Linked DNA regions of Homo sapiens. The protein of the gene in region 2 purifies or fractionates together with the protein of the main gene of each other region. This does not show direct contact. Each region holds a gene or a part of one and is shown on either strand. Other genes may lie near its edges.

Region 1 (3,917 bases), on a different chromosome or scaffold from region 2:
TCTCGAACTCCTGACCTCGTGATCCGCCCACCTTGGCCTCCCAAAGTGTTAGGATTACAGGCGTGAGCCACCTTGCCCGGCCTTAATTTTATTTTTTTTTAGATGGAGTCTCACTCTGTCACCCAGGCTGGAGTGCAATGGTGCAATCTTGGCTCACTGCAACCTCCGCCTCCCGGGTTCAAGTGATTCTCCTATCTCAGCCTCCTGAGTAGCTGGGACTACAGACACTTGCCACTCCACCCGGCTGATTTTTGTATTTTTAGTAGAGATGGGGTTTCACTGTGTTAGCCAGGCTGGTCTCGAACTTCTGACTTCAAGTGATCCACTCGCCTTGGCCTCCCAAAGTGCTGGGACTACAGGCATGAGCCATCATGCCCCGCCCATTTATCATTTTACATCACGTAAGTAAAATTTACAAAACGGTACAATCTTTTAATATTGGCTCCACAGATCTATTTAAGTACAACCATAGTCTAAAATAATTTTTCATTTTGCATGATGTATTAAAGACTTTCAGTATTGTAGTACTGATTTTTTAATGCAGTCTTAACTTTTTTAATGCTTTAAGTTAAGCATGAATGTACTCATAGGAACCTACAAGCTAGTATATCAACCTACCCCCATAAATTTGCAATTAGAAAAGAAAAATACATCAAGAAATATTTCAAATGATGATATACTGTAACCACAGACAGAACCAAGTAAACAAATGGAATTACATTCTTTCTCACCAACGACAAATAGCTTTGTTTTTGAAGCTGTTTTTAGTTAGAATGTCTTAAATTCAGACCAGCTTTAACACTCTGAAAACTCAATGGAAACAAATATGAACCAAGCCTGCATAGGGACAGGTCAGCAAGTCACACATCAGTAAACACTTCTTATGCTTAATTTTTAAAAATTGCTTTCCGCTGAATCCTTTAAACTCCTTCCTTGCACTCTTGATTCAGAAAGGCTTGAGTCGGCTGGACCCGTGGCTCACGCCTGTAATCCCAGCACTCTGGGAGGCCGAGGTGGGCGGATCACCTGAGGTCAGAAGTTCAAGACCAGCCTGACCAACATGGAGAAACCCCGTCTCTACTCAAAATATAACATTAACCGGGCGTGATGGCGCATGCCTGTAATCCCAGCTACTAGGGAGGCTGAGGCAGGAGAATCGCTTGAATCCAGGAAGCGGAGGTTGCGGTGAACCGAGATCGCGCCTTTGCACTCTAGACTGGGCAACAAGAACGAAACTCCGTTTCAAAAAAAAAAAAGGCAGGGGGGCTTGAGTCTAAATTAGATCGATTTACTATCACATCCACAGCTCCACTCATAAGGTAAAAAGTTGTGTTTTCCACCAGAATGCAAAAATCTAATTGCTTCTCACTTCCTGAAACTAGTAGGGGTTATCATGAAGTTACTATGCCATGAGTATTCCTTGTATTGTTTATCACTAACCGATAAGTTTCATCTAACTTCCCATTTTTGTCTCATACTTATCATTTTCTATAAATAAAATACTGCTGAATGAATTACTTATCTTAGCATTGATCCTGAAGGCGGCATGGAAACCTTTCTCCAGCTCACCCACTTTGACCCTCAAAGGCCTCCTGGCCTCATCATCTCCCAAAACTATAATAATTAGATGGCTCTGCTCTTTACCATTTTCCCCTGAACCTAAGTGAACTTGGCTTTCTTCAGTTTCTGCGTGTTCGCCCATTCCCAATTAATCTTGCCACGTTTATCCCAAATCCCTGCCTCTTTATCCCCGTGGTGAATGTTCCCTCGCCCCCTGTGCCTCTGGGTTTGTCAATATCCACAGCCCTTTAAAAATCGCATTCCAAATATGCACTGAGTACCTAAACCTGATCTTCGAAACCAAACTGCGCCTCCCACTTCACCAAGAATCTGATCAGGACCCTCCCTCTTTCCCAACCACTCCCGGCACAGCTTTCTCTCTTGCTACGGATTCCCAACTTTCAGCTCCACCTTTGCTTCCCAATTCGGCCGACAAAACTTCGGGCCATTTGCTCCGCTCTCCTGAATTTCTCCGCAGTCCTCTCCTGGGCGCCGCGCTCCTTCCCGCCCTGCCCGCGCGGCCGCCACCGCGACCGCGGCCACCAGCAGCTCCAACCCAGACCTCCAGCGCCCCCGCCCCTCCTTCCCGAGACCACTGGCAGCCGTTGGCGCGCTGGACCCCGCGGCAATCACCTTCTTCCTCCGCCATCGTTTCTGCGAAGGCTAGGGCGCCCTGCGGCTCCCGCGCGGCCCAGACTCTCCCTCCCTCCGCGTCGCCGAACCCCTCGGCCTCCGGGGGCCCGCTCCTGGCCGCCGCGCCCCCACTTCCTGACCCACCCCCCTCCGGTGTCGCCGCCAACCGCGTCCCCGCAGGCGGCCCGGGAACCAGAGTGTTGGGAGAGGGGAGCGGCCGGAGCGTTTCGCTGGGGCGCCGGGGCCTGCGCGGGCAGGAAGGAGACTCCACGCCGGGAGTGCAGCCCACAGCTGTAGCTCCTGGCCGCCGCCTGCCCTGGAAAGCGAGACTGGTGGGTCTCGCTGCAGCCCCGCCCCTCGTCCTACTCTTCCCAAAAAGTGAGGGCATGCTTTCCGCCACTTTTGTGACTCCGCGACTTAGCGAGTCAGAGACGATCATCAGCGACACCTCCCAGGTCCAGCCTCCATTCCCGCCCCATTTTACATGGAGGAAACTCAGATCTAATGTGGTGGAAGTCACAAAGCCGGTCAGAGGCAGAAGTGGAACCCGGTGCTCCAGAACTGCCATCGCTGCCTGCGTTCTCGCTGGGATTTCAGAGTGCAGCAGCAAAACGTTCTCAGTTGGCGCTTTGGTTTCGTAGGCCACTTGACCATTACAAGAAAGAAGCTTGTGCTTGGAACTTGTTTTAAATCACCAAAACTGGTTTAGCAAATATGTTGCATTTCATGATATTCTGGGGGGGGGGGCGGGGAGATAATACAATGGTCTGGGGTAGAGCAGTGTGCAATTAGATATTACAGAGCAATAGGGAATAATTTTAATTTGTTAAACTGTGTTTAACTTTCATTATATCTAGCATTCTTCAACAAACACCGGGATCTTTTCCCCAACAGTACTCAGAAGTAAATTTAGTAAATGAAATATACCCATTTTAGATCGGGAGAAACAGGCACGAGAATTCACTGAAGTCATGGGGTAATTATGGACACCCCATTATTAGCAGGCAGCAAGATTCTCCTAATAGCACCTTTAAGTTAGGATATTTGGGGAGAGGCTATCATTTTTCAGTGATGTGCAGAAACGGTTCCAGGAACTTTTTTTTTTTTTTTTTGAGACAGAGTCTCGCTCTGTCGCCCAGGCTGGAATGCAATGACTCGATCTAGGTTCACTGCAACCTCCGCCTCCCAGGTTAAAGCGATTTTCGTGCCTCGGCCTTCCCAGTAGCTGGGACTACAGGCGCAAGCCACCACTTAATTTTCATATTTTTAGTAGAGATGGGATTTCACCATGTTGGTTGGCCAGGCTAGTCTCCAACTCCTGGCCTCAAGTGATCCGCCCACCTTGGCCCCCCGAAGTGCTGGGTTTACAGGTGCCCACCACCACGCCCGGATAATTTTTTGTACTTTTAGTAGAGAAGTGGAGGGGTGTGGTTTCACCATGTTGCCCAGGCTGGTCTTGAAATCCTGACCTCAAGTGATCCACCGGCCTCAGCCCCACAAAGTGCTGGGATTACAGGCATGAGCTACCACGCAGGGCCTCCAGGAACTCTTTTTATGTCTGGTTCCCCGTAAAGATGTTTTTTGCCTTAAAACAACACTTTACCAGGAGTTAGAAACAGTGGACCAGAAAAGGCCTGGTGCCAGAGCCAAGAGAGCACAGAATATAAGGACCCTGAAAACCACAGGATATGGTAGGGTCCCTGGACATGAGCAACAGTACCTGA
Region 2 (3,917 bases):
AGTTAGTTCTCAAATAGTTGTTTCAATCATTCATATGAAAGATGCTAGAAATCTGTGAATACTAGTGTAACTCAAGCATCTCACTTCATACTGGGAAGCTGGCAGCCAGCTGTCTCAAAAATAAAAATAAAAAAAGTATTTTTCTCGCCTAGAGGGTTGTTTTGTATATATGGAGATTTCAAAGGAAATGACACAACTAAAAAGAATTTCTATCCCAAAAGAAGTCTGCCCTCCTGCCCTCCAGTTAGGTGTCCTCTGGAATAAAATGTTGAATCCACTTAAGAATTATTGATAAATAAATTCATAAACATGTAAAAAATCATTTTGGTGCCAACTGAATGTTAAATACACACACATAAACACATACCCCAAATCAAATAAATATAATCAAATATAAACCAAAGTAATATAATCAAAGTAATAGAAATGACATTTATCAAAGTGACATAAACGATAGTGATGAAGTTGCTGGGAAGCAGAAAGGACTTGTAGGTATTATGGCACTAGCCAAGAACTATCAGGTAAGTATTCATAGATGATATAAGTGGAGAGCTAAAGGAAAATAAAAGGAAGACTTTCCATGTGAGGGAATGATATGCTTATTAATTTGGGGAAAATAAAGTATATAAAATATAAGTACACTTGCCTAACTGAATCTGGGAACATCCACGTCCAGCCCTATTATTGTTTATATGGTGAAATTTCACCATTTCAGAACAAGTAAGATTCTTTTTTAAATTAAATACTGACAACCTCTAGGTAGTTCTCCAGTTTTAAGTTACTCTGGAAACTGAATAATAATGTTATCATTTAGAAAAAATGCATTTATTAATTGCCTTTAGTGATCATACATTGACCTATGAAATAATGTTTTTAAAATTATTTTTAAAGACATGTTTCTTGAAGTCTTACCATGAGCTGTGTAGTTTGTACAGTTAACTGGTTCTTGCGTAGCGTCATTTATTTTTGGATCTTTACAAATATATGTAAAAAAAAAAGTTAAGGAAATACGGACTACATTCCAACACAACACATTATCATGCCTTTACTATTCATATTATATACTCATGTTGATATTCACATGTAAATAGAGGCTGCTAGTTTGTCCAAGTCAATAAGCATATGTACAAATATACTTTTAGTATTGCTAAGTAATACTTGAGGCAGGAGGATCACTGGAGCCCAGGAGTTTGGGAAGAACAGCCTGGGCAACATAACGAGAAGTCTGTCTCTACAAATAATATAATAATACATAAACATTACAATAAACCTTTAAATTTGCCCCATAATTATCCACGTTTTTACTCATGAGAAAACAGAGTTCAAATAGGTCACCCAAGGTTGCAAAGTGCAACAGAAATTTATCCACTGAGTCCCCACGCGGTGGTTCATGGTGAGGGGGATGCGGATCGCTTGAGACCAGGAGTTCAAGACCAGCCTGGCCAACATGGCGTAAACCCCGTCTCTACTAAAAATACAAAAATTACCCGGGTGTGGTGGCGCATGCCTGTAGTCCCAGCTACTCAGGAGGCTGAGGCAGGAGAATTGACTGAACCCGGGAGGCGGAGGCTGCAGTGAGCTGAGATCGTGCCACTGTACTCCAGCCAGGGCGACAGAGTAAGACCCTGTCTCAAAAAAAGAAAACAGAAAGAAATTTGTCTGGCAGTCTACCATCTCATGAAGTTTGAAGATGACATGAGGTAATATGCATAATATACATAAAGTTAATGATAAATGGGCAACACATTGGCTAGATCGTTATTACTTGTCTTCCCCCTAGGAAGAGTTGGCAAACATTTCCAGGGTAAGAGACTATCCATCTTTGTATTACTAGTGTCTAGAACGGGGCCTGGCATACTTCAGGATCTACATGTTTTACTGAACAAGTAAGCACACTGATAAAAAAGAAAAAAAAAGTGGATCAGAAGAGGAAGCGCCAATGACTAGTAAAATCATAAGGAAATCACAAAGGGTGGCCTCTGGCCCTCCCATCTCCACAACTCTGTTCACCTTCAGGGATCCTTCAGTCATTAGAAGCCACAGATCAGATTATCGTTTTCACTCAGTACAGCCCTAGCCAGTCCTGACGGCAGCGACCCACCTGCGACCCCAACTCTACCTCGCCTCCATGGGGGGGTGTTCTCCACAGAGGATATTGTCCCACTTTGAGGTCCTCGCACTTAAGCGACTCCTCGCCCCCGGCGGAGGTGGCAACAGCCCCCCAGGGTCCTGTAGTGACTGAGACGAACCACAGGACACCAACGAGTCTGGCCGTCACGGCCTCCGGAGCAGACGGACCAGACGGCCAGGCGGCCGCCATCTTGGAGACCGACACTTTCTCGCCACTTCCGCTTCCGCCTCCGCCCAGGAGCGGGAGGGAGAAGGGCAACAGGGCGAGGTTCTTAAAGGGACCTCGCATAGGATAGAGGCCAGTTCCGTCTCTTCGCGTGTTCTTCTGCCCGTGAGCCCGTGGAATCACATTGGGAGACCCTTTTAAAATATGCATGTACCCAGTCCCTCGAGGCGAATTTTCCCCCACGAACCCTTGGAAGGAGCTAAGGTTAATCTTTGAGTGCTGGAGGAAGGAAACGAGTGGTTTAGGCAATCAGGTGCTTCACCCGCTTCTCATTCCCGCGCCCTTAGCTGAGGCTTCTCGGTCCTCTGAAAGTGCCAGCGGCGTCAGAGGTTGGAATCAATGCTTTCCTGACATCATCGCAGTTAGCCCTGATAGGTTTTGGGTTTACAGATAAGGAACAAGGCTCAAAGACGCTGAAACACACTGACCTTAATCACTAAGTGACTCAGTCGGAATGAAATTGATGTTTGCCAGATTTCAGATCTATGCTCTTACTAATTGACATAATGTCCTCCTGTAACTTTAGAGAAGGATTTTGGAAGGCTGCCACGAACAGAACTTAAAAACTGTGAGAGACATTACGCCTTTTAAAAAAAAAAAGTGACAATTTAGGTGGGGGATAATTTGGGGGGTGGAAACTGTAACAAGAGGAAACCAAATAGTTTATGATTAAGTGAAAAGTTGAAGATTTTTTTTCCTCCATCTGTTGTTTTTAAATTTCTATATGTTCTAAAAGTTCTGTGGTGGGGAACTTTAACAGTGAGGAAAAAATGTTTTCGTAAAGTTAAGTTTAATCTTTTTTTTGTCTAACAATATAAAAATTTGAACTTGAGTGGTGCTTCTTCATCCATACTTTAGCACTAACTTTGGTGGTTCTCAAACTTTGAATAGCATCTGAATCACCTGTAGTAGTTATTAAAACAGAATGATAGAACCGGCACTCAGAGTTTCTGATACAAAAGATGTAGGGAGGGACTGGATAATTTCCATTTCTAGGAGATCCCAAGGGATGTGGGTGTTGCTAGTCCAGGGACCCCCACTTTGAGAACACTGGTATAATGTTTTACGAGAAGTAAATTTTTTTTTTTAAGATGGAATCTCTCTCTGCCACCCAGGCTGGAGTACAGTGGCAGAATCTCAGCTCACTGCAACCTCTGCCTTCTGGTTCAAGTGATTCGCCTGCCTCAACCTCCTGAGTAGCTGGGACTGCACGCGTGCGCCACCACGCTCAGCTAATTTTTGTATTTTTAGTAAAGACAGGGTTTCACCATTTTGGCCAGGCTGGTCTCGAACTCCTGGCCTAAGTGATCTGCCCGCCTCTGCCTCCTAAAGTGCTGGGATTTCAGGTGTGAGGCCACACTGTGCCTGGCCTCATTTTGGAATATATATTCTGGAAGACATACAACTATTTGAAGTAATATTTAAACATAAACTACGTTTTTAAATTTTCTTTTTTTGAGGTGGAGTTTCACTGTTGTTGCCCAGGCTGGACTGCAATGGCATGATCTCGGCTCACTGCAACCTCCGCCTCCCAGGTTCAAGCTATTCTCCTGTCTCAGCA

The links.
Region 1: the proteins of TM2D1 (region 2) and DPY19L4 purify together in Homo sapiens (affinity purification with mass spectrometry; one large-scale study listed by BioGRID and IntAct). This does not show direct contact.

Annotation. Positions count from the first base shown.
Region 1 is NC_000008.11:94,718,291-94,722,207, reverse strand, and holds the start of DPY19L4 (probable C-mannosyltransferase DPY19L4), read right to left. Parts: upstream 2,309-3,917; 5' UTR 2,210-2,308; coding exon 2,194-2,209; coding exon of another isoform or gene 1,972-2,193; intron 1-1,971. UniProt on the Homo sapiens protein: Probable C-mannosyltransferase that mediates C-mannosylation of tryptophan residues on target proteins.
Region 2 is NC_000001.11:61,722,801-61,726,717, forward strand, and holds the start of TM2D1 (TM2 domain-containing protein 1 precursor), read right to left. Parts: upstream 2,342-3,917; 5' UTR 2,321-2,341; coding exon 2,157-2,320; coding exon of another isoform or gene 2,120-2,156; intron 1,630-2,119; coding exon of another isoform or gene 1,488-1,629; intron 987-1,487; coding exon 913-986; intron 1-912. UniProt on the Homo sapiens protein: May participate in amyloid-beta-induced apoptosis via its interaction with beta-APP42.